Linked DNA regions of Homo sapiens. The protein of the gene in region 4 purifies or fractionates together with the protein of the main gene of each other region. This does not show direct contact. Each region holds a gene or a part of one and is shown on either strand. Other genes may lie near its edges. The genes, in order: TOR1AIP1, ENSA, CCDC127 and CHCHD4.

Region 1 (8,522 bases), on a different chromosome or scaffold from region 4:
CTACTAAAAATACAAAAAATTAGCCGGGCATGGTGGTGTGAACCTGTAATCCCAGCTACTCGGGAGGCTGAGGCAGAAGAATCACTTGAACATGGGAGGCGGAGGTTGCAGTGAGCCGAGATTGCGCCACTGCACTCCAGCCTGGGCAAGAGTGAGATTGTCTCAAAAATAAAAAAAATAAAAAATAAAAAAAATAAAAAATAAATTTTCCCTTCTAAAAGGATCACAGTAACATGAATAGCAAATAGAACATTTTAGGCAGCAATTATCTAAAACGTGGATGCTCTTGAGCATGCATTCTCAATGGGGGTGAAAATTGGTTCATTGGGGACAAAAAAAAATTCTATTTTGTATAAAGCAAAAAACATTTACAGTCCATAAACAGATACATAGTATATATCTGGTGTTGAAATATCATGGGGAAGGGGTGACTAAGAAAAAAATCTAAAAAAGTTCTTCAGGGAGGTGATAAAGAAAAGGTTAAGAAGCCAGGTGTAGTGACTTATGCCTGTAATCCCAGCTACTTAGGAGGCTTAGGCAGGAGGACTGCTTGAGGCCAAGAGTTCAAAAACAGCCTGGGCAATATAGCGAGATCCCATGTCTACTTAAAAAAAAAAAAAAGAAAAGCTGCTGTGGAGATTCTTTTGCTAAGTCAGGAATATCTAACTTAACTGTATTTTTAAAAACCCTAAGTGCCGAGATAAAATGGAAAGTTACGGCTATTCCACTTCTAACCAATGTACTTGCAAATGGCTCCAGTTCTTTGATTTTTGTTTCTCCTAGCCAGAGTTGCTACAATTGTTCAAGGAAAATACTTGGATTTCTTTTTTTAAAGATGATAAATCATTAAGTTTATAACACATAGAGAGTATAAACCAAGAAAGTAAATTTATTTAAATTACTAAAATAGCTTTTAAAGTCATTTACAGATCAGCTGCTATAATTATTTTTCCTGAAAGACATAGGTAACATATTACTTTTAAATTACTTGGGTCAATGAAACATTTAATAAAAACATTTGTTTCTCTATATAATACGTATGTATAAAATAAGCCTTTTCAAAAACTCTGGTTTTCATAATCCTCTATAAATCAGATGATCTGACTTCTAAGAGGAACAAATTACAGTAAGGGGTATACATTTATGAATACTGGTAGTACTAGAGGAAAGACGTTAAACCACTCTACTACCACTTGTGGAACTCTCAAAGGGTAAATGACAAAGCCAATGACTGACTCTAAAAACAATATTTACATTTAATGGTTTGTAGACAATAAAAAAACAAGGTGGATAGATCTAGAATTGTAACATTTTAAGAAAACCATAGCATTTGACAGATGAGAAAGCTCAATTATAGATGCAAAGTTATAACTAAACTACTATAGTAGTAAAGAAATACATTTCACACCCTTCATATAAATTCACTATCTTGGCTTGAGGCACTCCATAAAATGTATCACGTGCATAGTAAATCTTTATATTTGCTATGGCGTTGCACTAGAGGACTTGGACTGCAACAAGTGGATGCGCGGAAAATGAAATCTTCTTCAATAGCCCAGGACAGCTGGTTAACAAATGGTTTGTCAATTCCTGAAACTCATTTCTTAATTCAAAACAAAAGCTTCAGGGTGTGTCCAAAATAAACTGTTACGAATTGACCTACTTTTTTTTTTTTGAGACGGAGTTTCATTTTTGTTGCCCAGACTGGAGGGCAATAAGCATGGTCTCGGCTTACTGCAACCTCCGCCTCCCGGGTTCAAGCAATTCTCCTGCCTCAGCCTCCCAAGTAGCTGGGATTTCAGGCATGCACCACCACGCCCAGCTAATTTTTGTATTTTTAGTAGAGACGGGGTTTCACCATGTTGGCCAGGCTGGTCTTGAACTTCTGACCTCAGGTGATCCACCTGCCTTGGCCTGACCTACTCTTAAGACTCAAGTGAACAAATATATTAAATTTTGCAATATACATGAAGAATCCTTGGGACAGCCAAGAATTTTTCTTCAAGGAAGGAAAAAGGAGATGTAAAAAACAAATCCCAACGGAATCCACCAAGATTAACAGTTCATATACCTATGTTTGACTAAACTACATCTCAGTGGATTACTGTAACATTTCCTCCCTTCAGCTTCCCCATTAATTTTCCTTCCTTGCCTTGTTCTTTCCATTTTCCAAAAAACAAAAGAAAAAAATTCCAAACACACACCTAGATGACCTTTCATTACTTATGTTCCTATAGGCAGAAGCTAAGGAACTCACACCTAAATGGTATAAAAGGGAACATAATGGGAAAATCCCTGGTTACATTTAGGGAGCAATCTTACTAATAACTCAGGAAACTTAGTGAGAAATCTAAGTTAAAAAATCAGGAAGGTTCATAAGAAAGGACACAAATCCCTCTCACTGGTCATACCATAACTGTAATAACTCAGCCCAGAATCAAAACAGATTCTCTAAGGAACTGCATATAATCTGCACTCCTAAGATACCTTTAACAGAGCTCTCAATGGAAACTGAAATGATTCTCTCATATCACAGATAATTAGGTTGAATGAATGATTTATATGTTCCATGTTTATGTAAGCACTTAACTTCTTTAAAAAGAAACTAGTTCTTTCAAAAAGAGCTCTGAATTCTGTCTCTGGTTAGAAAGTGTGAACAATTCTCAGAACTTGGGACATGATTTTTCTTCTCTCTCACTTCTTATAAGCAGATGCCCCTTTTCAGGGCATTTTCAGGTTGCACAGGCAGAACTAAGTGAGAAATACGGCTCCAGAGGCCATTCAGTTTGTCTGGGTCCATATGATTGTAGGAGTTGGGTGTGTTAGAATTGGTGAACTTGACTTTAAGAAAATCTCTTACTTTTTCTTCAACTTCCTTTAGGCCTAGACTTGTTCCAAGTGTCTCTTCCTCCAATAAGACAGTCAGGACTAAGGCTACATCTTTGAAGGCCGCGTTTTCATGGTCACAATATTTGTAGAAGATCAAAGTAGAGCCTGCGGGAAATGACTCAAAGCGGTGTACCACAGCTGCATTCTGGCCATTCTTAAATCCATTGCTCAGTTCTTGGTCTACCTCTAGTTTGACAGTATCACTGTCTTGAGTAGCTTTATCTGTCCCATCAATCCGGATGGCACGGACACTACGAAAAGAAGAATAGGCATCAGCAATTTGTTCACTCAGACACCTAAGTGCTTCTTCAGCATCTCGGGCAGCAGTGAGCAGTAAGATAGCAGGCTGAGACCGAGGATGGGAGCTATTAAGATGTTTTTCCAGGAATGTTTGGCTCCTTTTCCACAGCTTCTCATCTTGACCTTGGTACTTATTCTTAAGTTGATTCATCTGGTTCTGGAACTCTTGAACAGCAGTGGTTTCTACCTCAGGAGTACTAAAGAACCAAAAACTCCCAGAGGCAAGAGCAGCTATCAGAGGAAGTAGCCACCACCGGTTCCTCTTGACAAAAGATGCATTTTGGGGTTGTCCAGTCACTTCTACTCAGACAAAAAAGAAATGACAGATATAAATACCACTTTCTTAGATTCAGGGGCAAGTGACTTTTAAAATCAATATCAGTCTTTATAAACATTAGGTAAAAGAGGAAGGACTTTAAAGAAGAAAGCTGATAATTTTCTTAATAAAATAATTTATCACATTCTCAAGAAAATCTTACATGCATAGGCTTTGAATTATGTGTACAAATATGCATATGTCTCTTCAATATAAAAATAAGTCTTTGAGGAAAAAAGTTTTTAAACATATGAAATGGCATAAACAAGTCAGAAAAATAATAGTTTATAAAGCGAAGTTATTATTTTCACTGCTAATAGTTGGGAGAATAGACTATTAAAATACAATTTATAAAATATTTTTTTAATTTAGTAACTCAGCATTCACATGGCTAATTATTCAAGGTGAAATATTTCTGAAGTACATAAAGGGATAAAGAAAAGGATGCAGGCTGGAAGTGGTGGCTCATGCCTGTAGTCCCAGCACTTTGGGAGGCCGAGGAGGGAGGATCACGAGGTCAGGAGATCGAGACTGTGAAACCCCGTCTCTACTGAAAATACAAAAAACTAGCTGGGTGTGGTGGCACACACCTGTAGTCCAGCTACTTGGGAGGCTGAGGCAGGAGAATCACTTGAACACGGGAGGCGGAGGTTGCAGTGAGCCGAGATCACGCCACTGCACTCCAGCCTGGGTGACAGAGAGAGATTCCATCTCAAAAAAAAAAAAAAAAAAAAAGAAAAGGATGCAATATAAATGAACATCTTCTACGTGTTATAATAGCTAGCTGTCCCTTTAGATTAATTTCACTGATGCCTTTTGTGGTATGCAAGTTAACACTGGTAAAATTTAGTTTGTGACTCATCCCTAGTTACTATTGGCAATAATAATAGGATTAATTTATATTTATCTAGTGCTTTTCGGTTTATAAAGTACTTTCTCATATTCTACTTCATTTATTCAGTTGATAGTAACAATAATACTTTTACATCTTTTACTTATTGACTGTTTCAGGCTATTAATTTTAGTAGGGACCTTTTAGAGCAGCAATTCTCAAGGCGTGGTCTGTGGGGTACCTCAAGACCCTATTTTGTGGGGAGGGGGGTCCATGAAGTTAAAGCTATTCTTCTAACACTAAGATGTTATTTGACTTTCACCTTGTGTTGACATTTGCACTGATGACGCAAAAGCTATGGTGAGAAAAACTTCTGATGCCTTAGCATGAGTTACAGGGCAGTGGCACCAAACTGTACGAGTGTAGTCATTGTTATTTTTCACTGCCATGCATTCAAGATTTAACAAAGGGACATTCTTTTACTTAAGAATGTCCTTTATGAAGCAGTTAATTATTTATCTTATTAAATCTGAATCCTTGAGTACATATGTCAATATTCTTTCTGAACAAATGGAAGGTATGCACAAAGCACTTCTGCTGCATCATACAGTACCATGGTTGTCTCAAGGAAAAGAATTTTGTGCAAATGAATTACAAGGCGAATTAGCACATTTTTCATGGAATACTATTTTTTACTTGAAAGAACAAGTAACAAACTACAGTCAGACTTGTGTATTTGGCAGATATTTGCTTTCAAGTGAAAATTAGGATTTTAGAATCCTAAATCTGCCACCATGAGCTTGACAACTCCCAATATTGTACTTTAACACTTTCTTTTTTTTTTCTGAGATGGAGTCTCGCTCTGTGGCCCAGGATGACATGAAGTGGTGCGATCTTGGCTCACTGCAACCTCTGCCTCCCAGGTTCAAGTGATTCTCCTGCCTCAGCCTCCTAAGTAGCTGGGATTACAGGTGCGTGCCACCATTCCCAGCTAATGTTTTTGTATTTCTAGTAGAGACAGGGTTTTGCCATGTTGGCCAGGCTGGTCTTGAACTCCTGACCTCAGGTGATCCATCCGCCTGGGCCTCCCAAAATGTTGGGATTACAGGCATGGGCCACGAACCCCACCCTTTAACACTTTTTTAAAGTCTTGAGATTGGCAGTGATGTTAACAAATGTGATATTTTTTATTACATTCCTAATGTGTCAATGTTTGGAAAATCTGCATTCCTCAGTGAACCAATGTTTTCCAAATGACCAGTGCATGATACTCCATTCAAAGTATAAGAAAGACCAATGACTTTTAATGTAATAGAGTACTAAAAGCTCAGTAAGATGGTTTTAGATATCCTATTTCAAGTAACATTTAAGAAACTACCACTTGTTGAGTTTTGGAGAGTTCAAAAAAGAATAGCCACAATTATCTGAAGAGGCTATTAAAATTTTTCATATCTGTATAAAAGCTGGATTTTTTGTAGATACTTCAACAAAAATAATATATTGTAACAGACTGCATACAGAAGCATATATGATAATCCAAATCCATTTTTTAAAGCTAGGCATTAAAGAGATTAGAAAAAATGCAAAGCAATCTGATCTGTTACTCTTCTTGCTAAATTATTTTAAAATAAATTAATACATATTTTAAAAAATGTTTCAACTTTAATTTCCTGGTACATATGGATAGACATAACCCATATTTTCAACAAAAAGCTCTTTGAGGTTCTTAATAACTTTACTAGTGTAAAGCGGTACCAAGAACAAAAAATTTCAGAATCATCATTAATCTATTTTCTTTTTTTTTTTTTTTTGAGACAGAGTCTCGCTCTGTTGCCAGGCTGGAGTGCAGTGGCACAATCTCGGCTCACTGCAACCTCCGCTTCCTGGGTTCAAGTGATTCTCCTGCCTCAGCCTCCTGAGTAGGTGGGACAACAGGCGTGTGCCACCACGCCCAGCTAATTTTTGTATTTTTAGTAGAGATGGGGTTTCACCATGTTGGCCAGGATGGTTTCGATCTCTTGATCTCATGATCCGCCTGCCTTGGCCTCCCAAAGTGCTGAGATTACAGGCATGAGCCACCACGCTCAGCCCATTAAGTTATTTTCTTAGTACTCTTTCAGGACAATAAGACTTGGAGAACTAAAGAAACTTGCCACAAGGCTGTAAAGGAGGTAAGTGGTCCAATCTAGTTCAAATACAGGTTTGCAGACTCCGAAAGCCATTGTAATCCCATAAAGTCATGCTCTGGCTAACTTTCTTTCAATTCAGCATGGTTTTCTCAGTTAACAGTATTAGTAGCTTTACTTATTTTAGCTATTATTTTTGGTCTTATAGACAGTTAAGTGAAGAGCAATACCAGATGTTGTCTCATAAAGTTTGTCTATAAAGAATTTCACTGCTAGTAGAATATATACTTTTTCCTCTCAAGTGCTTAAAATGTGATTCTTCAAATAGCATCGAGTCATACTGCTGTCAAAAAACATTTTTAAACAATTATGGAATACCAATTTTACAGAAATATTTAATAAAAACTGAATACATAAACTTACGTCGGCTGGAGGTTGATGGTGACTGGTTTCCAAGCTCTGATTTCAGAATGCTGTCATCTAATGGTGAGAGTAATAAAATAAGACTATCAACTTATGCTTCATAATTTGAGTATTTATTTCTAGTAGACAAAGAAGATACAAATTCCACCAGGAAAAAAAGAAGACAGAGATCAGCCAGAAGCAGAAGAAAAAGTAGAATATCTGAGTGCCGATTAGACTGAGAGCTCCTTGAAACACATGACCTATTTCTTTCATAGCTTTTCACAGCATATGGTGGGGTCTAGTACAAAGCACACAATAATTAGTTTTGAGAGAAAGTTTGGAAGTATTTGACCCATTAAGTATCTAATGGGATTGGTGAAACTTCCGGGATAAAAAGGACAAAGAAACTAAGCACACCATAATAAAATGAAACATATTATACCATCTGAAAAACTGCCATATATTGAACTCTTGCCTGGTGAAGATGCTGTAAAGAGGGGGAAAATAAGGACAAAATGTGGATTACAGACTACTGAGCTGTCTGGATAAGGTGTTTTAATATAAAAATCTTAATCCTCACTATTTTCTACCTCAAACTGATTCAGTATTTCCTCTGGGGATTCTGACCATTTCAAATACTAGTAGTATTTTAAAATCACATTTAAAAACTTCTCATCATTTCTGTTAATAGACAAGTAATAAAGTAATTCTGTTTTAGGCTTGTGGTTAAACAATAGAGCTCAAAAATAATTTTCTCTCAACTCTGTCAAATTTCTACTTTCATCTAAATCTATTTAGAAAATAAATTAAGCCGGGCACAGTGGTTCATGCCTGTAATTCCGACAAATCAAGAGGCTGAGGTGACAGGACAGCTTGAGCACAGGAGTTTAAGGCCAGCCTGGGCAACATTGTGAGACCCCATCTCTAAAAAAAAAAAAAAAAATTAAAAACAAGAAAAGAAATTAAAAATGATCCTAACCCTTCCCTTTCCCTTCCATCTTTCTTAGCATACCAGCAGGTTTTAAAATCTAAGAGAGGAAATGGAAGGACAGGCTTCAGAAGGTGGAGAGGCTGAGTTATCTCATTTGTATGACCTATATTACCAGTATTGCCGTCTATCACTTGCCTGGAGTTTTATAACTTTTGTATATATAAATGAACTTCCTGGTGGATCTTCTTAGCGTTATATCAACAACTTTCATTTGAGAAACACTGGAATAACTGGAGGAATAATATTAGCCCTGCTAAGATTCAGAAATAGCCTTATTTTTGATCATATGACAAAAAACTCCATAATGATGTAGTAAGACAAAATGACAGCAACTGTAAGAGGAATACTGTTTTTCAATTACTAGTTTAGCTTAGGATATTTCATTATTTAGAAGCTTCTAAGTTAGGTTATCGAAGTTACAACTAAAATAACAATAAAAATACCTAACCACATGAAACCCAAATCCATCAGATAATGTTTATTTTGAATACTTCACTCCATGGTTGCAAAGATCAAATGAGATAATATATACAAAAATGCTGTGAAGTGCAATTCTATGATGTTAATGATGAAGGACAGCTAAATAATAATTATGTACCATATATAATATTTATATAATTCATATAACACAAACACATACACAGCAGGGTATATACTGCCAAG
Region 2 (9,501 bases), on a different chromosome or scaffold from region 4:
CCTTCCTAATGCTCAGTAATTTAGCTATATCAAGGATAAATGGGCTGGGCACGGTGACTCATGCCTGTAATCTCAGAACTTTGGGAGGCCCAGATGGGTGGATCACCTGAGGTCAGGAGTTCAAGACCAACCTGGCCAACAGGGTGAAACCCCGCCTCTACTAAAAACACAAAAATTAGCCAGACATGGTGGCGCGCACCTGCAATCCCAGCTACTCAGGAGGCTGAGTGAAGGGGTGGCCTGCCCCTCCACACTTGTGGGCATTTCTTGTCAGGTGGAATGAGAGACTTAAGAAAAGAAGGAGACACAGAGACAAAGTATAGAGAAAGAAAAGTGGGCTTAGGGAAGTGGCGCTCAGCATACAGTGGACCCGCACCGGCACCAGTCTCTGAGTTCCCTCAGTATTTATTGATCATTATTGGGCGTTTCTCGGAGAGGGGGATGTGGCAGGACAATAGGGTAATAGTGGAGAGAAGGTCAGCAGGAAAACATGTGAACAAACGTCTCCGCATCATAAACAAGGTAAAGAAAAAAGTGCTGTGCTTTTGATGTGCATACACATAAACATCTCAATGCCTTAAAGAGCAGTATTGCTGCCAGCATGTCCCACATCCAGCCCTAAGGCGGTTTTCCCCATCTCAGTAGATGGAACATACAATCGGGTTTTACACCGAGACATCCCATTGCCCAGGGACGAGCAGGAGACAGATGCCTTCCTCTTATCTCAACTGCAAAGAGGCCTTCCTTCCTCTTTTACTAATCCTCCTCAGCACAGACCCTTTACGGGTGTTGGGCTGGGGGACGGTCAGGTCTTTCCCGGCCAGCATATTTCAGACTATCACATGGGGAGAAACCTTGGACAATACCTGGCTTTCCTAGGCAGAGGTCCCTGCGGCCTTCCGCAGCGTATTGTCTCTGGGTACTTGAGATTAGGGAGTGATGATGACTCTTAACAAGCATGCTGCCTTCAAGCATTTGTTTAACAAAGCACATCCTGCACAGCCCTTAATCCATTTAACCCTGAGTTGACACAGCACGTGTTTCAGGGAGCACAGGGTTGGGGGTAGGGTTACAGATTAACAGCATCTCAAGGCAGAATAATTTTTCTTAGTACAGAACAAAATGGAGTCTCTTATGTCTACTTCTTTCTACACAGACACAGTAACAGTCTGATCTCTCTTTTCCCCACATTTCCCCATTTCCTTTTCGACAAACCACCATCATCATCATGGCTTGTTCTCGATGGTCGCTGTCTCTTCGGAGCTGCTGGGTACACCTGCAGACTAACAACAGATAAAACAGGCACACAAGGATTAATACGAAATTTATAATAGTAGTACTTCCGATGGTCTTAACCCAAGTGACAGGGTTAAGATTTGCGAGGCCATCAGTCACTCCTGCGATTGCCTCAGTTTCTGGTACCAAATTTAAATGGGCTTTTGATGCTTCGAAAATTGGTTCTCTATCTTAAGAGGAGACTCAGACTTAAATAGTAAGAGAATATTAACCCCAGAGGCAATAAAAGAAATTAAATTAGTGGAACAAAAAATTCAGTCAGTGCAAATAAATAGAATAGATCCCTTAGCCCCACTCCAACTTTTGGTTTTTGCTACTGCACATTCTCCAACAGGCATCACTGTTCAAAATACTGATCTTGTGGAGTGGTCATTCCTTCCTCACAGTACAATTAAGACTTTTACATTGTACTTGGATCAAATAGCTACATTAATTGGTCAGGCAAGATTACAAATAATAAAATTGTGTGTAAATGACCCAGACAAAATAGTTGTCCCTTGAACCAAGGAACAAGTTAGACAAGCCTTTATCAATTCTGGTGCATGGCAGATTGGTCTTGCTAATTTTGTGGGAATTATTGATCATCATTACCCAAAAACAAAAATCTTCCAGTTTTTAAAATTAACTACTTGGATTCTACCTAAAATTACCAGACGTGAACCTTTAGAAAATGCTCTGACAGTGTTTACTGATGGTTCCAGCAATGGAAAAGCGGCTTACACAGGGCCAAAAGAGCAAGTAATCAAAACTCAATATCAATTGGCTCGAAGGGCAGAGTTGGTTGCAGTCATTACAGTGTTACAAGATTTTGATCAACCTATCAATATTGTATCAGATTCTGCATATGTAGTACAGGCTACAAGGGATGTAAAGACAGCTCTAATTAAATATAGCATGGATGATCAGTTAAACCAGCTATTCAATTTATTACAACAAACTGTAAGAAAAAGAAATTTCCCATTTTATATTACTCATATTCGAGCACACACTAATTTACCAGGGCCTTTGACTAAAGCAAATGAACCAGCTGACTTACTGGTATCATCTGCATTCATAAAAGCACAAAAATTTCATGCTTTGACTCATGTAAATGCAGCAGGATTAAAAAACAAATTTGATGTCACATGGAAACAGGCAAAAGATATTGTACGACATTGCACCCAGTGTCAAGTCCTACACCTGCCCACTCAAGAGGCAGGAGTTAATCCCAGGGGTCTGTGTCCTAATGCATTACGGCAAATGGATGTCACGCATGTACCTTCATTTGGAAGATTATTATATGTTCATGTAACAGTTGATACTTATTCACATTTCATATGGGCAACCTGCCAGACAGGAGAAAGTACTTCCCATGTTAAAAAACATTTATTACCTTGTTTTGCTGTAATGAGAGTTCCAGAAAAAATTAAAACTGACAATGGGGCAGGATACTGTAGTAAAGCTTTCCAAAAATTCTTAAGTCAGTGGAAAATTTCACATACAACAGGAATTCCTTATAATTCCCAAGGACAGGCCATAGTTGAAAGAACTAATAGAACACTCAAAACTCAATTAGTTAAATAAAAAGAAGGGGGAGACAGTAAGGAATGTACCACGCCTCAGATGCAACTTAATCTAGCACTTTATATTTTTTAAACATTTATAGAAATCAGACTACTACTTCTGCAGAACAACATCTTACTGGTAAAAAGAACAGCCCACATGAAGGAAAACTGATTTGGTAGAAAGATAATAAAAATAAGACATGGGAAATAGGGAAGGTGGTAACATGGGGGAGAGGTTTTGCTTGTGTTTCACCAGGAGAAAATCAGCTTCCTGTTTGGATACCCACTAGACATTTGAAGTTCTACAATGAACCCATCGGAGATGCAAAGAAAAGCACCTCCACGGAGACAGAAACACCGCAATCGTGCGCCATCGACTCACAAGATGAACAAAATGGAGTCTCTTATATCTACTTCTTTCTACACAGACACAGTAACAGTCTGATCTCTCTTTCTTTTCCCCACAGCTGAGGCAGGAGAATCACTTGAACCTGGGAGGGGGAGGTTGCAGTGAGCCGAGATATCACATCATTGCACTCCAGCCTGGGCAACAAGAATTAAACTCAGTCTCAAAAAAAAGGACAAATGTATAATTTAAATCAATCGTTCCTTTAGCAATCATAGTTTTTACACATTATTCTTAAGCAGAGCTTGGAATTAGAAATAGCTTGATCAGAAAGTATTTCCCAAAAGAATTATTCATCTTTTAGATGAATCCCAAAGTGCTGGGGTTACAGGCGTGAGCCACCACATCCAGCCTCATTCGCCTTTTCTAAAAACATGCTTGAGTCTTGCCTATTCCCCAAAAGAAAATCTGCTGCTACAGCTCTGCCCTTTCCTTGCTTTACTGTTAAATATTGCTACCACTGTTCAATATTGGTACCACCTCCTCGCTCCTTAACGTCTTGCGATTGACCTCTATCACCTCCATCTTTAATTTCTGTATCACATTTAACATTGACAACCTGCCCTCCCTTTCTTCATTTGCTTTCCATGGCTCTTCTCTCTTCTAATTCTCTCCCTACCACTCTGATCATTTGTATGTCTTTTGCCAACTTTTCCCCACGTTTCTGTCTTGGGAGTTTTTTTTTTTTTTTTTTTTTTAAGAGACGGGTTCACTCTGTTGCCTAGGCTGGAGTGCAATGGCATGATCATAGCTCACTGTAACCTCAAACTCCTGGCTTCAGGCGATCCTCTCACCTTGACCATTCAAAGTGTTGGGATTACAGGTGTAAGCCACCGCACCTGACTGGAACCTCTTTTTTTCCTACATTCTCCTTTGTGATCCCATCAACTTCCACAACTTTACTTACATTTATGTGAAAAAGTCCAAAATTTGTACATCTTCAGCGTCTACTTTTCTCCCAAACTCCCACACTTACATTTCCTAGAACCCTTAAATTTCAGATATGGAGATCTTAGAGGTCATTTATCCTAAGTCTTCATTGCCTGGATGTCTCCACCAAATGGTTCATTCGCTTTTAATAAAGTCCATGTTTTCAGGCCGGGCACGGTGGTTCACGCCCGTAATCCCAGCATTTGGGAGGCCGAGGCAGGCAGGTCACCTGAGTTCAGGAGTTTGAGACCAGCCTGGCCAACATGGCGAAACCCTGTCTCTACTAAAAATACAAAAATCAGCCGGGCATGGTGGCGCACACCTGTAGTCGGGAGGCTGAGGCAGGAGAATCACTTTAACCCGCGAGGCAGAGGTTGTAGGGAACTGAGATTGTGCTACTGCACTACAGCCTGGGTGACAGAGCGAGACTCCGTCTCAAAAAAAAAAAAAAAAAAAAAAAAAAGTCCATGTTTTCAAAACTGAATGCCTTATTTTCTCTCTGCTTTTCAGCTCCATTCCCAAATTGACTCCTCTTCTTGAATTTATTGTTTCTATAAATAATCACCTTGAGGCACACAGTCTTCTCATTCTCTATTCAGTCAGCTGCTAGTCTAGTGGATTCCATTGTCACAGACTCTCTTGGTTAGGTTCACTATTTTCTATTCTTAACTACTACGTTTCTAGGTTAAATCCTAATTATCTCCCACCTAACGTTTGCAGAGGACTCGGCTAGACTGTTCATCTCTGGTAGTTTTCTGCTTGGAATTCTGAGTCTTTTTATTCATTACCACCAAATTATCTCCATAAAGAGCACTTCTTATCTGCCACTCTTTTTTTTTTTTTTTTTTTGAGACGGACTCTCACTGTCACCCAGGCTGGAGTTCAGTGGCGAGATGCGATCTCGGTTCACTGCAACCTCCGCCTCCCAGGTAAAAGCGATTCTCCTGCCTCAGGCTCCTGAGTAGCTGGGACTACAGGTGCACGCCACCACGCCTGGCTAATTTTTGTATTTTTAGTAGAGACGGGGTTTCTCCATGTTGACCAGGATGGTTTCTATCGCCTGACATCATGATCCACCCTCATCGGCCTCCCAAGGTGCTGGGATTACATGCGTGGGCCACCGTGCCCAGCCTTGTTTTGTATTTCTAGTAGAGACAGGGTTTCACCATGTTGGCCAGGCTGGTTTCGAACTCCTGACCTCAAGTGATTCGCCCGCCTACGCCTCCCAGAGTGCTGGCATTACAGGCGTGAGTCACCGCGCCCAGCCAGGCCTGTAAGCTTTCTAAGGGCAGAGACTGCCTTACTATACACGTACCCCCCCCAACTAACACAGTACCATCCACATACAGACAGACGCCCAGGAAATGTTAAACTGTAATTCTGGATAGGTTAACTAGTATTAACCGTATTTACCAAATGTTTACCACATACTTACACTGTCCTCCTTGTTTCAAGGAGCGTAGTCCCCAAGGGATCACCCTGATGGAATATAAAAACTACACATAAGAGTGAAACTACGGAACGTAAGCCATTAGTGTTTTGCAAGACAGCTCGGGTTGAGACTCAGTCTCTCTCTTCCACAGGCCAAGTGACACATCGTAATACCATTGGTACCGTTTTATTTTATTTTTCGCGACAAAGTCTCGTCCTGTCACCCAGGCTGGAGTGCAGTGGCGCGATTTCGGCTCACTGCAACCTCCGCCTGCAGGGTTCAAGCGATTCTCCTGCCTCAGCCTCCCAAGTAATTGGGATTACAAACGCCCGCCACCACGCCCGGCTAATATTTGTATTTTTAGTAGAGACGGGGTTTCACCATGTTGGTCAGGCTGGTCTCGAACTCCTAACCTCAGGTGATCCGCCCACCTCGGCCTCCCAAAGTGCTAGGATTACAGGCGTGAGGCACCGCGCCCGGCCTGTTAGTACTACTTTAAAATCGAATCTGACCTCCAAATCATTTTCTGGAGCTCGATCATTTTCTGCTAACACCGCAAAGCTTAATCCTCTCCACCTGAGAATAAAAGGTTCCATCCTTCCGCTCTCCAGTTTGACGCCCTGCTAAGTCTCTCGGACGCGGTGGGCTGGAGTGAAGGAAGCCGGAGCCCACCAAAGCTGCAAAAGTACCACAGCCAGCAGCCCCGCCCCCGATATCCCCCACAGGCTTCCAATTGGTCCTTGTGGCTCACTCTCTTTCCAGGTTGGTGTTCCAGCTTGCCGGTCGCCTCTATAGAGCCCACCTTTAGACGGCGACTATTGGTAGATCGTTACGTCATTGCCCTATCTACCTCACTCCCACTGGCTCTCATAGGAAGGGGCGGTCGCAACGTCACGGGCAAGGGCCGCCATTTTGACTGAGCAACCCTAGTGACAGGAGCCGAAGCAGCAGCGCAGGTTGTCCCCGTTTCCCCTCCCCCTTCCCTTCTCCGGTTGCCTTCCCGGGCCCCTTACACTCCACAGTCCCGGTCCCGCCATGTCCCAGAAACAAGAAGAAGAGAACCCTGCGGAGGAGACCGGCGAGGAGAAGCAGGTGAAGTGGAAGGGGTGCGGGCGGGCGAGCTGGGGAGACCGTGATGGGGCGGGAGACGGTCTCCCACCAGTGCGGATTGGTCGCCATGGTCTCAGGCTCCGCAGGGGTTGGCCACTTTTTGCGTCACGCTGGGTGAGCTTCAACACGACATGCTGCTTTGGCGCTGGTTAGTTGGGTCGTTTGTCACTCAGTACTGTACTCTTCCTGATTGGCCAATAGGCCTACCGCTCAAACCTTGGACGCTGTGCTATAATTGGCCGAGCATGGACGTGGGGCGGGTGGTTGGAAAGACGGTGAATGGAAAGGGGATGGCTGGTGGTCTTGGGTGTGATGTGTGTTATTGGTTTGTAGAGGTAAGTGACCCAGCAACCGGGCTGGGGCCCGCAGCCTCAATCCGCAAAGATAGGGGTCGAGGTAAAGACGTTTAAAAAAAAACCAGTATTGGGGGAGGGGAGAAGTGTAGTTATTATAATGGCTAGTTTAAGGCGGCAACTTTCTCAAGAGACCTATTTTAGTAGCTAAGGATGGTCTATTGCTCACCTTCAGTGAGGACCCAGCAATATTGAAGAGGGCTAGAGTTCCAAACAGAATCATGGTAATTAAACTTGGAAAAGACGCCGACAGGGTCGTGAGAAAGACACTTCTCTCTTCCCCTAGACTTCCAAGGCAGGGACTTAGTGCACCTGCGATTCCGTGATGGAAACACTAACGCCAAATAAACCCCTTATTGGGGTTTGTATTTGACTTTTAAAATTTAGTACTGGGTTCAGGTACTCATTAAATACACTTGGTGTTATATCTATGCGTAATTTCCAAGAGAAAGGAATATAATTCCACTAAAAAGAGTCATACGTTGACTTCATATCTTTTCAAAAAGTCACTAAAGGGCAGCAGGGACCACAAAAAAAAAAAAAAGAGATTGACTACAGTAGTGAGAGTCCCTGCACCACCAGGGTAGGTATTGATTTTTTTGATGAAAACTGGTGGGTAAATACTAGTGAGCCTACTGTATCTTTGTTTTCCTGAGGTTAAAAACAGTATCATTTTCCTCTCTGTTTATCAGCTTGCTACCATAATATTTGTGGAAATGTTGAAGCAAGGCTGTGCCATTACTCAGGTGGAGATCTTTGGAGAAGGCCACATAGCTAGCCGCCTCCACAGGGAGACCTAACAGGTGGCTTAGACCTTGAATAAAGAAGGAACTGCTTTGTCGTGTAGCAATTTTAAAAAAGAAAGAAAAAAATAAGGAGGAAACATTTAGCAAACTATTTTTTGTTGTTGTAGAGACGGGGTTTCAACATATTGCCCAGGCGGGTAGTGAATTCATGAGCTCAAGTGATGCACCTGCCTCAGCCTCCCAAAGTGCTGGGATTACAGGCATGAGTCACTGCTCCCAGCCCCAAACTATTTTTTTTTTAATTTCTCATGTGACATGTAGGATAGCCTAGGGAACCCTGCTACTCATCCTCTATCACCAGAAGCCCTGCTTTTTTCTCTTTGTCTTTCTTAGCATTTGTGCTGAGTGATATGGCCCACTCTGTGATTAAAGTATTGTGTTTAGTATTACCTTTAGCCCAATACGCACAGGTCCCTGGCTGGTTCCTTGGGTGAAGTGTGAGAAGCAGCTTGTCTTTTTCTCTCACAATAGTCATCTTGAGCTTTAGGGATTTTAACAAAGGTCTAGCTTTAACAGCAGAGTAGAGATAGCGTATTTACAAGTGGGTGGATTTCCAGGAGAAGTTGATAGTATAGTTGTTATCAGATGTGAGAAGCTGTTGTTTCTCAGTCTTTAATTTTATTTGGCTCATTTGTTTTCTCCAGGACACGCAGGAGAAAGAAGGTATTCTGCCTGAGAGAGCTGAAGAGGCAAAGCTAAAGGCCAAATACCCAAGCCTAGGACAAAAGCCTGGAGGCTCCGACTTCCTCATGAAGAGACTCCAGAAAGGGGTATGGGGCATAGTCTCTTACCCTCTTTCTTTGGAGCTAAAGGAGGTTCTTCGAATGAAGTCTGTAGAGGTTCTACTGGATCCTTTTCTGGAGGTTTTGTTGTTGAACAGAAGTAGAGGCGAATTTGAAATTTGAAAAGAGCAAGTCAAATTAATGTAAATCCCTGATGTGGTATCAATTCCCTCCTGATTTCCCATGTAGGAAATTAAGGCCTAAATTGGAGCATTTGGGTGTGTGGGGAAATGAGGGAAAGATGTTAGAAACTGAAATGCAGACTGCCCCCAGGCATTTGCCTGTTTGAATGTTGGAGGTTTTAGGATTGTGCACTTTTTAAGCATTAGAGATAAATTTTGGGATGCATCATTTCAGAAGAAGATCAAACCATCTCTCCTACAGAAATAAATCCTCAACTTGAAATGAATCAGTTTCTTCATACCCTTGAAGTGAGCACCAGCCATTAATTATACTCCTGCAGCAAATGTATTTTTCTTGTTCAGAGTGGTCCTCCTTACCAAGAGAGAGTCTACTTTCATAGCCATGTAGCTCCTGATCAGATTTTTAGTTCCCAAAGGTACCTAAAGCTGACTGAGGGATTATATTATCGTTTTTTAAAAAAAAAATTTGGCCAGGCGCAGTGGCTCACGCCTGTAATCCCAGCACTTTGGGAGGCCGAGGCGGGCGGAGCACGAGGTCAGGAGATCGAGACCATAGTGAAACCCCGTCTCTATTAATAATACAAACACTTAGCCGGGTGTGGTGGCGGGCGCCTGTAGTCCCAGCTACTCGGGAGGCTGAAGCAGGAGAATGGCGTGAACCCGGGAGGCGGAGCTTGCAGTGAGCCGAGATCGTGCCAC
Region 3 (8,428 bases), on a different chromosome or scaffold from region 4:
GTAAAAATCTAGTAAATGGGCTGGGCACGGTGGCTCACACCTGTAACCCCAGCACTTTGGGAGGCCGAGGCGGGCAGATCATGAGGTCAGGAGATCGAGACCATCCTGGCCAATGTGGTGAAACCCCGTCTCTACTAAAAATACAAAAATTAGCTGGACGTGGTGAGGGGCGCCTGTAATCCCAGCTACTCGGGAGGCTGAGGCAGGAGAATCACTAGAACCAGGGAGTCAGAGGTTGCAGCAAGCCGAGATCGCGCCACTGCACTCCAGCCTGGCGACAGGGCAAGACTCCGTCTCGAAAAAAAAAAAAAATTCTAGTAAATGAAGCGAGTGATCAGGACAAAACTAGCCTCTCATCAATAAATCAACCAATAGCGCTTATCAAGTATTCATATGTCTGCCTCTTCTTCTAGACTACACTAGGGGCTGGTTAACGCTCCTATGTGCAACAGAACCTCAAACACATCGTAACACACCTTTGGAGAATCCTTACAAGAACACCAACTTAACAGTTCTCTCTGACCACACTACCTCAGCAAAAAACCAGGAAGAAAAAAATATTCTTCAACCCTTTTCAGGGACAGAAAGCATCATTTCAAAAGTCCAAGAAGGGAAGGTAAGAATTTCAAAAGTGAAAGTTATCATGAAAGGCTATAAAAGCTGGAGATGAGTCTGAAAAACAAATGGAAAATGAGTCACTTCAGGGCCTCTCCCAGCCTCAAAGCCAATTAATTATTACATTAGTCAGAGTAATTTTAAGCCTTCCAATCCACTCACCCTAGCCACAGGCAACAGTAGCCTCTCCAAGTGTTAAGGGTTTTTTTTCCCAAGCCTGCAGGCGGATGAGCTTTTTACATGGCAGCCCCTTAGGATTGGATGTGGACCTGCCCTGTCTTTCACCAAGAAGCAAGCACTGCGCAGATCACTGAATCATAAAAACCACCTGCTCTTACCAGCCTCCTCTTCCTCTACAGCAAAACTTCTGACCTGAGACATGGAAGCAGATAAAAAGCCACTACACAAAATGTATCGCTACAACTAGAGGGCAGTTTTGCCTTTCTTCCATTCAATTATTCAGTTTCTCATGTTCCTAAGTGCCAGCCCAGAACCATGGAATGTGAAGAAACACAAAACTCACTCCTCTGCATCAGTGAATTGATTGTGTGGTGGGGATGTAAGTCTGCATATGACCGGCAGGTCCCCAAAGTGGTGCCAAGTCAATCTAAACTAGAGAGAATTTTTCTGGCCAGGCCAAGCAGAGATTTCATGGATGAAGTCTCCCAAAGACTGATTTCCTAAACATTAAACATCACTGGTTTTCCAAAACTGGTTTTCTTTTTTTTTTTTTTTAACCCTGTTGCTCGGGCTGGAGGGCAAGTGGTGCCATCTCCACTCACTGCAGCCTCGACCTCCCAGGCTCCACTGATCTTCCCACCTCAGCCTCCTGAGTAGCTGGGACTACAGGTGTGCACCGTCACGACTTGCTAATTTTTGTATTTTTTTGTAGAGACGGGGTTTTGCTGTGTTGCTCAGGCTGGTCACTCGATCTGCCCACCTGGGCCTCGCAGAGTGCTGGGGTTACAGGTATGAGCCACCACGCCCAGCCCACTGGTTTCCTTTACACCCGTTTTGTTCCCCAGCAGTCCTTATGAGGGCACCTGAAATAAGGAACCTCCTCCCCGACTTGAGAGCAGCAAAGCCTTCAGAGGGAACTAAGTTATTAAAACCCACCCCACACAAAATGCTTCTAAACGCCTTGGCTGACTTAATCCTTGCAGTGTGCTGAGGTTAAGTATGATTATCCATCTCCTGTGAACAGGAAGACTGAGGCTCAGAGCTTAAGTGATTTGCCCACGGTTCACTGCAGGGGATAAAACTCGGCTGTCCCTGGCAGGTCCCAAAGTCACGGCCTTCAGGCTCCCACACCATGCTGCCTCCCTCACCGGGGCTCCACACTCTCAGCCTGGAAAACACGAATTTTAAGAAAACCATGACTTACGAAAAGCAGCCAATCCCAGCATTGGAACCAACAGGGCATAATTCCACCTGCTTCCATCACCACCATCCGCCCTGGAATTAGGCCGGATATTCCAATTTGGGGGATCATTTAGGTTATTCATGGAGATATACCTTGAAGTAAAGAATAAAAACGTTAACTACTTTTATTCAAGAAATTTTTCTTCAGTTTTAACTATGTGCTTGCTGCACAGCACTGAGGCCCTACGGGATTCAAAGAAGAAAAAAACTAGACCAGAGCCGGGCATGGTGGCGGGCACCTGTAGTCCCAGCTACTCGGGAGGCTGAGGCAGGAGAATCGCTTGAACCTGGGAGGTGGAGGTTGCAGTGAGTCGAGGTCGCGCCACTGCACTCCAGCCTGGTGACAGAACGAGACTCCGTCCCCCCCAAAAAAAAAGAAAAAGAAAAAGGAAAAAAAAAACAAGAACTTAAGATGAAAGCGACTCACAATCTGGTTGGGGAAAGTGGAGAAAACAGACATGTCTTAAGCATCTGAAGTGCAGGTAGAATCAGGTAAGTTCTCTGGTACAAATATGTTTAAATGTATGGCTGCTGCGATGGTTAATTTTGTTTGTCAACTTGACGGCATCATGAGGTGCTCAGATACATGGTTAAGCATTATTTCTGGGCGTGTCTGTAAGGGTGTTTTTGGATGAGATTAGCAATTGAACCTTTAAACCAATTCCTCACGTCTCCCTTCTATTTGTTGTGTCTCTGGAGAACCCTCATACAGTTGTATCAAAGATACAGAATCAACTCGATAAAAGTGGGCTCACACCGGACACTTTCATATGAGCTAGGGTTTGAAGAGTGAGCAGCATTTTGACAGGCAGAGAAAGAAGGAAAGGGTCTTCTGATCAGAAGGAAGACTGTGAGGAAGGCAGGGAGGGGTGATGTGGGGAAGGTGCAAACAGTGCTAGAAGCTTCTGAGGCCTCCTCGTGGTGGTGATGAATGCAGAGATTACAGAGTTCTCTGCTTCGGGCTCAGCATGCACCCTCCATAGCTAGGCTGGGGGCTAACGTTAGTAAGAATTTACTGATTTACTGAGTACCTACACGAAGTTTCACATTTTCACAAAGTAGAGTCACTTTAAGTTTGTTTACATGTGACCTCCACAAACACACACAATTACAAAATAGTTTAGTTAATCAAGGGATGTATAATAAACAAGAGGTCGGAGGCCCCGGGCCGCTCCCGCCCACCTCCGCGGACGAGCGCCCCCCTCCGACCCCATTCCCTGCGGTCTGGGCGTTCAGGCCCTTCGGTCTGGGCGATCCCGGAGAACCACCCACGGGGCTTTAAAAATGTTGGTGCCCACCACCTCCCCGGAACAGGGCCCGCTCTACCTCGGTCGGGGAGCGCGGGACCTCAGCGTTCCCTTAACGCCACCGTCCGCGGGTCCGCTTTGCGCAGGCGCGGCGCCCCCACTCAGTACCCGCTCCGGGCGTGGCATGGTGCGCAGGCGCGATGTCCCCCACTGCAGCCCCGCTCGACTCCGGCGTGGTGCGCAGGCGCGGTATCCCCCCTCCCCCGCCAGCTCGACCCCGGTGTGGTGCGCAGGCGCAGTCTGCGCAGGGACTGGCGGGACTGCGCGGCGGCAACAGCAGACATGTCGGGGGTCCGGGGCCTGTCGCGGCTGCTGAGCGCTCGGCGCCTGGCGCTGGCCAAGGCGGTGAGTCCGTGCCGCGGACCGGGGCGGGGCAGGCGGGGGCCGAGGCGGCGGTAGGAGCGGGACGGTCCCCAGCGGGTCCGAGCGGAGCGGGCGCCGGGTCCCTGCGCCCTCTGTCCCGGGATCGGGAAGGGGCTGAGAGAGCCCTGGGCCGGTGCGAGGGGAAGCCGCGGGGCGGACTCGGGGACCCGGGGAGCTCGGTCCTTAGTAGATAGTCCGCGTCCGGGTGAAGGTCACAACCCCGCGGGCTTGCTGGGCGTCCCCTCCGCCGCCTTGGTCCGGGCCTGGGGTCCTGGGACCCCGCGGGCTGAGGTAGCCCCTCGCCTCAGTGCCTGGCAGGTGGACTCGGGGAGGAGTCGTGTCTGCCCAAGGTCACCCGGGCGGATAGCGGCCGGTGGCCGCCCTGGCTGGGCTGGGCCTCTGCCGCCCTCTGTGCGGGTTGTCCTGAGGAGCAGCCCGCAGCCCGTGGGTGGGGCCGGCGGGGCGGGTGAGACCGCCCGGGTGGGTGCGAGGAGTGGCCGGGCTCGGCCCGGTGGGCGTCCGGTGGGAAGCGTGGCGCGCCCGAGCTTAGGCTTGCAGTTCGCCTTTCCAGAAAGCGCAAATCTGTCCATGTCCACTTCGAGACCTTGTAAGTTAAGGGCTTCTACTTTGGGTCGTGTTTGGTGGTCCTTATGCCACCAAAAATGTGCCAGTGTTTAAAAGCAGCTGTGCCAGTTTTTAAAACTCAGGCGGAGAGCTCAGCGCACTGACCGGGCGAGGACGCCGGGACCTGTGCTTGCCTGTGCGCTGAGTGCCTCTAGGGCCGGGCTCGGCTTAGTCCAGGATGGTGGTCAGGGTTATACTTCCCTGAGCCCTTGCTCTCTGAGTGTCTGAATGTGCCCTCTACGATTGCATCTTAAGAATCGGCCTTCTAGGGTTTTATTTAATCAAGCTAAATTGGATAGGTTTAGTTGTTTGGTTCTTTTAAATGAACTTACCCACCCACCTCCTTAATTACAAAGTAATTTTAAATTGCAGAATAAAAATCTCAATAGGAACCAAGGCATTCAGCAATATTGATTTGAATTATGCCTGTAATTGTGCAATTTTCTCCTTTTTGAAATACTTATTAAAAATCTCGTTGAGTTAAATGTGAGGATTAGTCATACAGCCATCCTGCCAACATCAGAAAGCGTGTAAACCGTTCTAGTGTGTTGCTGTGGTTGGTACTGACTGAGCAGAGACCCCTGCCGCATCTTGGGCTTTTAAGAGCTGCTAGGAGGGCGTCCACAAGCAGGAAGGAAAGCCCATGGTCAGTGGGGCTTTTTAGGGGAAATGGTAGCTTGTGATTGGAGAAAAGCTAGAGCTAGTGCCTTTGTCCTCAACCCAGATGGTGCCCGGTGTTCCTTCTGCAGACTAAGACCCTGCCAGCGGCGGAGGCACCTCAGACGGGATGGCAAGATAGCAAAATTGAACCAAAATTTAGTCTTGGGTTTTGTAAAAGTCTTTTTATCTTGATGAAGTTAGCTTTTCCTACAGAAATTCTGCCTGCAAGCAGCATATTTATCGGCATTTCAGATAGGCTTTTTTTCCTGAAGAATTGGAGTTTACGAAGGAACAGCATAATCAAAAAATTAGCAGAAAAAAGAAAGAAATTCGTGATAGCCAACTGAGAAATGTGTTTGGAAAATAGATGCTGAGGATAATTTCAGTAAAGTCCAGAGAGAATTTTTTAACCTCATTTTGGCCAGTTCTGTGGTGTTTTGATCATTCTGTATTTACAACTGCTTTCAAGTGACGAACTTATCAGACTTATTTTGCTTTTGGTTTCTTTTTATGGCCCAGTGCACTGACACAGCTTGCAAACTGTTCGAAAGCAGTTTAATCAGAGGAAAAAGAAAACCAAGAAACTTCAATAGTTACTGGTTAACTGCTTACTTCAGGTGAAGTTTTTCAAATCCCTTAACATGAACATCCAATATATTGTTCTAGGACAAATTGATTTCTTTTCTTTGAATGGATTGTTCTGAATATGTTTAATGGTGTTCTAGAAATACATTATTTAGGCCATTATAGTAGTAAACCTTTGCTTTGCTTCTTGGGATAATTGTAACAACAATGGCATTCCATTCTGCATTCCTCATGATGTTTTTCCTGATTTATTTGAAAAATTGTGACTTGTTTTTTGATATGAAACCTGGATATTAATATTAGTTGGGAGTCTCAGAGATTTTTCCCAAGGGTCTTTAGATAGGGGGGCAAGTCCAGGATCCAGAGCCAGGCCGGCCGACTTGAATCCTCTCTGAGCTCCGTCTTTCCGTGGGGTTAGTGAGGATTCTGTGGGTAATGTTTGAAACCTTTGGTGATGCTCTTGAGAACCAGGGCTCACAGCCTATGCACAGTAACCATGTGTGAACTGAATTTTTTTTTTTTTTTGAGACAGAGTCTCACTCTGTCACCCAGGCTGGAGTGCAGTGGCGCAATCTCGGCTCACTGCAAGCTCTGCCTCCCGAGTTCACGCCATTCTCCTGCCTCAGCCTCCTGAGTAGCTGGGACTACAGGCACCTGCCATCATGCCCGGCTAATTTTTTTGTGTTTTTAGTAGAGACGGGGTTTCACCATGTTAGCCAGAATGGTCTCCATCTCCTGACCTCGTGATCCGCCCGCCTCGGTCTCCCAAAGGGCTGGGATTACAGGTGTGAGCCACCACGCCCGGCCGAACTGTATTTTAAGTATCCCTGTTTTTAAAATAATAAACACTAAAATTCTAGTGAGAATAATTACACGCAGTTGTAAAAGAATCAATGAGTATACCCTCCCTCACCCAGTTCATTTTCCATGAAAGCAATTCCTGTTTCTGATACTGACTCCTGGCATTTGTAATACCTCTGTTTCTTTAGCGGATATGCAGGTGCATTTTTATCAGTTTTAGACTTCTTGCCTAGAGAGGGGATTTAGTTCACTTAAACTACCCTGCTTCCGCTTCTTCCTGATACAGTCGTGCGTTTTTAGGTTCTTCGTTGGCTGCTTTTGTGATTGTGTAGGTTGTACATGCAGATTAGTTTCTTGCTCGTGATTTATAGGTGCGTTGTATTAGATGAGGACCCCTTACTTTGCTAGATTTCGGATATGAATGTCTCTGCACTTCTTACTTTTCCCCTCCACCTCCTAATTCAGTCATCTGAAATTCTGTATTGTTAAGCAAGGTCTAAGTATTCCTTTTAGTTATATGTTCCCCATTTTTTTTCTTGAGGAAATGTTTGATAGTTTCTCCTAAAAAAATTAACAATTGGCACAAAAGACTAGTTTTGTGTCAAAACTAGTTTTGAGTTTTATCTAAAGACTGAAATTGGCTTAAAGTTGGGCTTTCCAAATTCAAAAATCTGCCCCAGATTAGATTTAGATTGAGAGGGTTAGTGTCCTTTTCGCCAGGGGGATGGCGTGATAATTTGTTCAAGATTGTGTTATAGTAGCTGCCCCTTTTAAGCCAGCTCTGTGTGTGTGTGGTGGGGGGTGGGCAGTGGGTCTTCCACATCAACATCCTAGAAAGAACGAATAAACATTGAGTGATCTCACTGTTTCTACTTACATTTGGTATAATATACTGTTCTTACTGGTGCTATTACTATGTTAATAGGGCACTTTACAACATTTTCAAGAACATTTGTATTAAAATTATTTCAAAGACTTCTTTCTTAAAATATGATTTTACCATGCAAAAATTTTACTAAGGTAGAAGAATATTTGTTCTTTCTCATTCATTTTCTGAAAAAAGAAAAAAGCTGAATTAGCTTATACCAATAAAAACAGAGACTAGAAATTGGAGAAATGAAGAATAATTTTTTATCCCACATAATAAGTAATTTCTGAATTGCAAGTATTTCTAAATACTTGAAGACATTCCTCACATCCCCTCTTCTGATTGCATTTATTTCCTAAAGCTTTTTTTTCTTTTCTTTTTTTTTTTTTTGGAGACGTTGTCTCTCTCTGTTGCCGAGGCCGGAGTGCAGTGGCACAGTCTAGGCTCACTGCAGCCTCTGCCTTCTGGGTTCAAGCGATTCTCCTGCCTCAGCCTCCCAAGTAGCTGGGATTACAGGTGCCCGCCACGACGCCCAGCTAATTGTTAGTAGAGATGGGGTTTTGCCATGTTGGCCAGACTGGTCTTGAACTCCTGACTTCAGGTGATCCACCCACCTTGGCCTCCCCAAATGCTGGGATTACAGGCATGAGCCACCGTGCCCAGCCCCTAAAACTATTCTTGATGATATTTCTGAGACTATTCAGTGGTCTTCTCAAATGTAGCCAGCAGAATGGAAAACGTATCCCCTAAATGGCTGGCCAACCTTAGCATATGGACAGTGTCACCTCTCTCACACAGAGCCACTAAAAACTAAACACCAAAACCAGTTTTCTTGGGTAAAGTTTTCTAAGATGGAAAATTTAAGCAGCAAGATGTGTCAAGTTGTAGATGTTGGCCAGGAAAAAGCCAGCAGCAGCCAGGCAGGGGAGAGTGTGCATCCGACATCCTCCTGTGTGATGAAGGGATGACACCTCGTCCCTCTAGGCTGTCAGCTTTTACTGTTCCAGGATACAGATCTCCTGATTCAATGTTGAGTGCCTTTTGAACTGACCACAAGCCCTCCTGGACGATTGGAACTGTAATGTGGAAAGGGCTATGATGGAGCCAGTTAAAATGCTTCATTACTTGCAAAATACCACATACAGTAATACAATATACACGTCTTTCCCCTTCTCCACTAAGT
Region 4 (4,816 bases):
GAATCTCTGCTGTAAGTTACCATGGCTGGAAGAACCCAGCCCTGAAAATCCAGCACCATTATGTAACACTCATCCATTCCTTTCTGCTTTCTAGTAAATGTTGACTTCCTGGCTAGATTGTAGCTTCATGGGCAGTACCATGAATGAATCACTCTATGTCCCTAGGGCTTGGAACTGTAGATTCCATGAATGCATCAAATAAATGGGGTACATGACATGGTCACAAAACAGTAACACCTTGATTGTGACCAAAATTTTAACAAAAGAAATATCGTTTTTAAATGTGCAAAACTCTGTTAAAAGAAGTCGTTAGGGTCTGTCATGCCTTCCATGCTTGGCCAGCTCCAGGTTCTTAGCTCCTAATCAAGCAAGGTTTAAAAAAGCTCTGGATATAGAAAGCAGTTCTCTACCTCCATACACCTCCCAACCACAAATCCTTGCATTTTAACCATGCCTTCAAGCTTTAACATGGTGGCGCCTCATTCTCCAGTGTGGCAGGCAGCTTCCTGTTACTCGTATTCTTGTGTCCCTCTCCTTGAGTGTGGGCTGTGTCTCACTTCTAACAAACAAATAGACTATGGTAAAGTTATGGAATGTCCGTTTTGAGATTAGGTGATGAAAAGGCTCTGGCATCCATCTTGCTCTCTCGCTTGCTCTGATGGAAGCCACCTCCCATGTTGTGAGCTGACCCTTTAAGGCAAAGGCCATGTGGCAAGGAACTGAAGGAGGTGTCTGGCCAACAGCCAGTAAGGCACTGAGGCCCTCAATCCACAGCCCACAAGATTCAACCCACTGAACCCTCCCAGAAACCACTTCGAGCGATCTTGAAAGGCCTGTCCCACCTTGAGATGACTACAAGTATCATAGCCTCATGAGACACTGAGCCAGAGAACCCAGGTAAGCCATGCCCAGATTCCTCGTTTCAAGCTATTAAGTTTTAAGGCAATTTTTTACATAAATAACTTAACACATTTGAGACAAATGAGGCATTACTATGCCACAGCCTGAAAACTGTCTAGCAGTTACCTTAGGCAAGTTAATCTATTTTCAAACAGGAAGAGCCTTCCCCACCTCATAGACTAACTGTAATGTCTGTGTGAAGGCATCTGCTCACATATAAAATAAGTAAGCTTCCTTTGAACTCAACACAGAAAATTTTAACGGACTCAAATTGGTTTACCAATATCTTTCAAGAGGAATTTCAATTGAATTGTTCATAATTTATACTTTTTTATATAGAAAACATTTTTAACTAGTGAAAACAAAGGACACATTCAAAATCAGGTAGAAATCATGTTTCCTTTTAATTGAATACTTAATTCACAACGTTTCCTCTCTTGCTGCTACTCTGGTAATAATTAGGTCCCCACCTCTCAAGAACATTGCACCTGACTAGACTGAGAGCCAGTGTGAACATGGGCCCCAAACCAGGGCTTTCGGAATAACAAGGAACAGCCAAGCCAGCCTCTCCCTTCACTTAGAAAGGGATTATGAATGGAAGGGTCCAAATCTTCATCATCCAAACACAGAAAACCAGGAGCTCAACACCTACATGGAAACCAAAATGTATCAGGAATAAAGTACAGTACCCCTTCACATACTCAAGGTCAAGATGGGTTTGCAGAAATCATATCTGACCATCTGGCCTCTGCTAGTAGATATGGCCCCATCCCAGCATTTTTAAGAGATGTTTTTGTTGTATTATTTCCCCAAGGGGTATAAAATCTACCAAAAGGAATATAATGAATCAGAATAAATCAGCTCACTCACAAGAAACGTTCTTGGGTAATGGTTTTTAGTTGCTGAGCTTATTCAGCACATTATTTAAAAGTGGCAAAATTCAGGGCAATCTGAGAATTCAAAAGTGGCGGCCACAGGTTTGGGTAGGACACACATACATACAACCCCCATTTTTTTCAGTGTATATGTCAAGATGTCAAGACCTCAAGACCTCTGATCATCAAAATAAGTTATTTTGTATATTATAATGCACAGGACAACAGAAGGAAACTTTCTTGGAAGGTGATGACAAGGCCTTTTGCAAAAGGTCCACTCCAAAAGGACTGGTGCCCAGTGCCTTGTGGCCTTCATTAACTTGATCCCTCCTCTTCTTTGGTTGCAGTGGCCTCAATGGGAGCTGTTTCTTCTGCTTGTTCTGCTGGCTTCTTCTCTCTTTCCTCTTCCTCATCCTCATCCTCTTGGGGATAGAGGTCTGGGTATTTCTGCATGCATTCCTGCATGGCCCGGAACTGGTCTACACAGTCTGACCCCTTGATCTCCTCCGTGCTATAGTGGAAGCAGGAAAAGGCTGACTTAAACTGTTCTCCACAGGGACCGCTGGCCATTCCCCCAAGGCATGGGCAGTTCCAGTTAATGTTTCCATTTGGCAGTATCAATCCTAGAACAGGAAGATAGAGAGATGTTCTCTAAAGTTTCAGAAAATACAAAACTAGTCCAGTCCTCACAGGCTACTGAGGGGGTGCAGAACAGGAACTATTGTTGCCTATGGACCCACACCTCGATTTGGATTAGGTTTAAAGCCTAGCACATATCCAGCATTCCTTGGCCCACCTGGGAGAGAAGCCACCAATGACATATTTCTCCACGTGTGACACTAATTTATTCTAAGCCACCTCTCAGTGCTCTGAGGCTGTGCTCCAAGAATTAAATACCGGGACCCATTTAGCCCAAAGAAGAGGAGATCACTTGGATGGTTAGTGAGGAGCTTTTTGAAAGCCCAAACACTTTAAGGAACTGAGGTATTGATCTCCTCTTTCCAATCCCCCTCCCCATATGGATGATCAGGACCACCCCACCCCCATGCTCCCTGCCCCCCTGAGCCCCTCTTGCCCTGCAGCTGCTCTCAGAAGCTCAGCATAGCCTGGGGACTGGTGAAAAGGAGGAGGTTGCTCCTTATGTACTGACGAAGAAAGATGTCCAAGACATGCTGCACAATGAGAAGCTGGTGGCATACCATTAGTGCGAGTGCATTCTTGTAAAAATCAACCAAACCTGTTAAACTGCACATATGTGTTGGGCAGGAAGCAAGGTTATAGATGGGTTTTCATTTTCACTATATTAATAGGCTTCTTACTTTTGACTTTTATACCTTTTCTTATCATTGAACTTTATTCACATCTAAATAGTATTTCTTGGTTTTCCAAAATGCTCTCAAAACGATGGCTTCATTTTCAGCTTTGTGAAGACATGATTCATACAGAAGTTTCTTACATGATTCTTATTAAGAGACTGAAAGTACTTTCTAAGAGAGCCTCTAAAAGGTCCTGTGAAATTACACATGATTCTTCACTCCAGGGCAGTACCCAAGCCTGGCACTCTGCACTAACGTCCAAAGTCCTAGGCGAAACCCCGCCTGCCTTCAATTCCAGCTTGGGAAGCTCCACTGATCAATGGATCTGCTGTAGCTATTCCTGTTCCTTACTTGTAAAATGGGGACAGCAAGGACGATGCCAACTAGTGCTGCCCCCTTAGCAGGCGCAGACCCCCAGGACCATCAGCAGTTGCAGATCAAGTTCTCCTGCATTAAGCTACGTTTGGTAACTCACATAAGCCTTCTGACAACCTTCTGCAGTGGGTGCTACTAACCCCAGTTTACTCATGCAGTCTCTGGGGTTCATGGTCCAAGTGAGGACTGCAGACTGGGCTGACAGGATTCCCAGAGTCCATGCCCCTTCCCCTACATCTCACCACTTCTTGAAATGGACCTCAGTGCTGGAGAAACATTTGCAAATGCTGCCCCCTGGAGCTTCAAATCTGCTCACAAACCTGCACAACCAGTTTCCAAAAGAGGTAATACTGACATTTAAAAATTACAACCCAGTACAAATTGACCAGGTGGTTGATTAAAAAAAATCATAACAAAAAATGTATAACCTAGGTCTCCAGGAGTCCTTGTTTCATTGTTTCTTAGGGGCAGGTAAGCTGGAATGAGATACCTCCTCACAAAGCACATGGTGCCAATTTGCATTTCAGGGACACAATATAAATCCACACAGAGGGTACCTTTGGCATGTTACATAAAGCTCAGATGCAGTGTGTTGTCAAACATGCAGTCTAAGGCCTGAAGTTCCAGTCTCTGGCTGAGTCAGTCTCCGCCCCCGCCCAGGCCCCCAGTTTTCTCATTGGATCAGATGATCTTTAAGGCCCTCTTGATGTTTTGATTCTAGGAAAATTAATTCTGCCACCTTTTTTCTTGGTACTCTTAGCTATTCCAAGCACCATCTCAGCTGCAGAGCTGGATGCTGGAAGGCAGGTAGATGGCATAAAATGGTGGCTTACTTGGTCCACTTACTAATTTTGCAGTTTAAGAGCTTGAAACTTGGGTCCCAGAGTTCTTTGCGTTTTATAGGCTTCTTTTTACAAAGTATTCACTATAAGGGGCTGTAAAGCCAAATGCATCATATGGTATACCTACTATCCAAGCAGATACATTGCAAGTGACAGAAGCAGGTAAAAAAAAACAACAGGGACAGGAAAGAATGGTGGGATCTGGAGGGGGCAGACCAGTCTAAAGGCAGATACGTACTGCTTTTAATAACACTGTGAGGCAAACAAAACAAGGCCCGATTTGTCCTGCAGGCCTCCACAGTCTTGATCAATTAATGAAATGTGCTTAATATGGATCTAAAGATAAGCAAGGTACTAGAATTGACATGTAAGCCCTGATCAAGATTACCCTTGCAGCTGTCTTTCTCAGAATGCTAACACTTTGTATAACGTCTGCATTTCCCACTGCTCCCACTGGGTGCTGGATATGTATTTTATGCTTTAACCCCTAGGAGCAGTCAGGGCAACA

What was found.
Region 1: the proteins of CHCHD4 (region 4) and TOR1AIP1 purify together in Homo sapiens (co-immunoprecipitation; 3 studies listed by BioGRID and IntAct, with this or other methods). This does not show direct contact.
Region 2: the proteins of CHCHD4 (region 4) and ENSA purify together in Homo sapiens (co-immunoprecipitation; 2 studies listed by BioGRID and IntAct, with this or other methods). This does not show direct contact.
Region 3: the proteins of CHCHD4 (region 4) and CCDC127 purify together in Homo sapiens (co-immunoprecipitation; 2 studies listed by BioGRID and IntAct, with this or other methods). This does not show direct contact.

Annotation. Positions count from the first base shown.
Region 1 is NC_000001.11:179,912,419-179,920,940, reverse strand, and holds the end of TOR1AIP1 (torsin-1A-interacting protein 1), read right to left. Parts: intron 6,944-8,522; coding exon 6,887-6,943; intron 3,490-6,886; coding exon 2,702-3,489; 3' UTR 865-2,701; downstream 1-864. UniProt on the Homo sapiens protein: Required for nuclear membrane integrity. Induces TOR1A and TOR1B ATPase activity and is required for their location on the nuclear membrane. Binds to A- and B-type lamins. Possible role in membrane attachment and assembly of the nuclear lamina.
Region 2 is NC_000001.11:150,626,613-150,636,113, reverse strand, and holds the start of ENSA (alpha-endosulfine), read left to right. Parts: upstream 1-6,501; 5' UTR 6,502-6,643; coding exon 6,644-6,700; intron 6,701-6,974; exon of another isoform or gene 6,975-7,008; coding exon of another isoform or gene 7,009-7,053; intron 7,054-8,521; coding exon 8,522-8,647; coding exon of another isoform or gene 8,648-8,782; exon of another isoform or gene 8,783-9,068; intron 9,069-9,501. UniProt on the Homo sapiens protein: Protein phosphatase inhibitor that specifically inhibits protein phosphatase 2A (PP2A) during mitosis.
Region 3 is NC_000005.10:214,730-223,157, forward strand, and holds the start of CCDC127 (coiled-coil domain-containing protein 127), read right to left. Parts: upstream 3,425-8,428; 5' UTR 3,364-3,424; intron 2,131-3,363; 5' UTR 2,121-2,130; coding exon 2,000-2,120; intron 1-1,999. Other genes in the region: SDHA (succinate dehydrogenase [ubiquinone] flavoprotein subunit, mitochondrial), read left to right, coding at 3,627-3,689.
Region 4 is NC_000003.12:14,110,797-14,115,612, forward strand, and holds the end of CHCHD4 (mitochondrial intermembrane space import and assembly protein 40), read right to left. Parts: intron 2,399-4,816; coding exon 2,091-2,398; 3' UTR 1,281-2,090; downstream 1-1,280.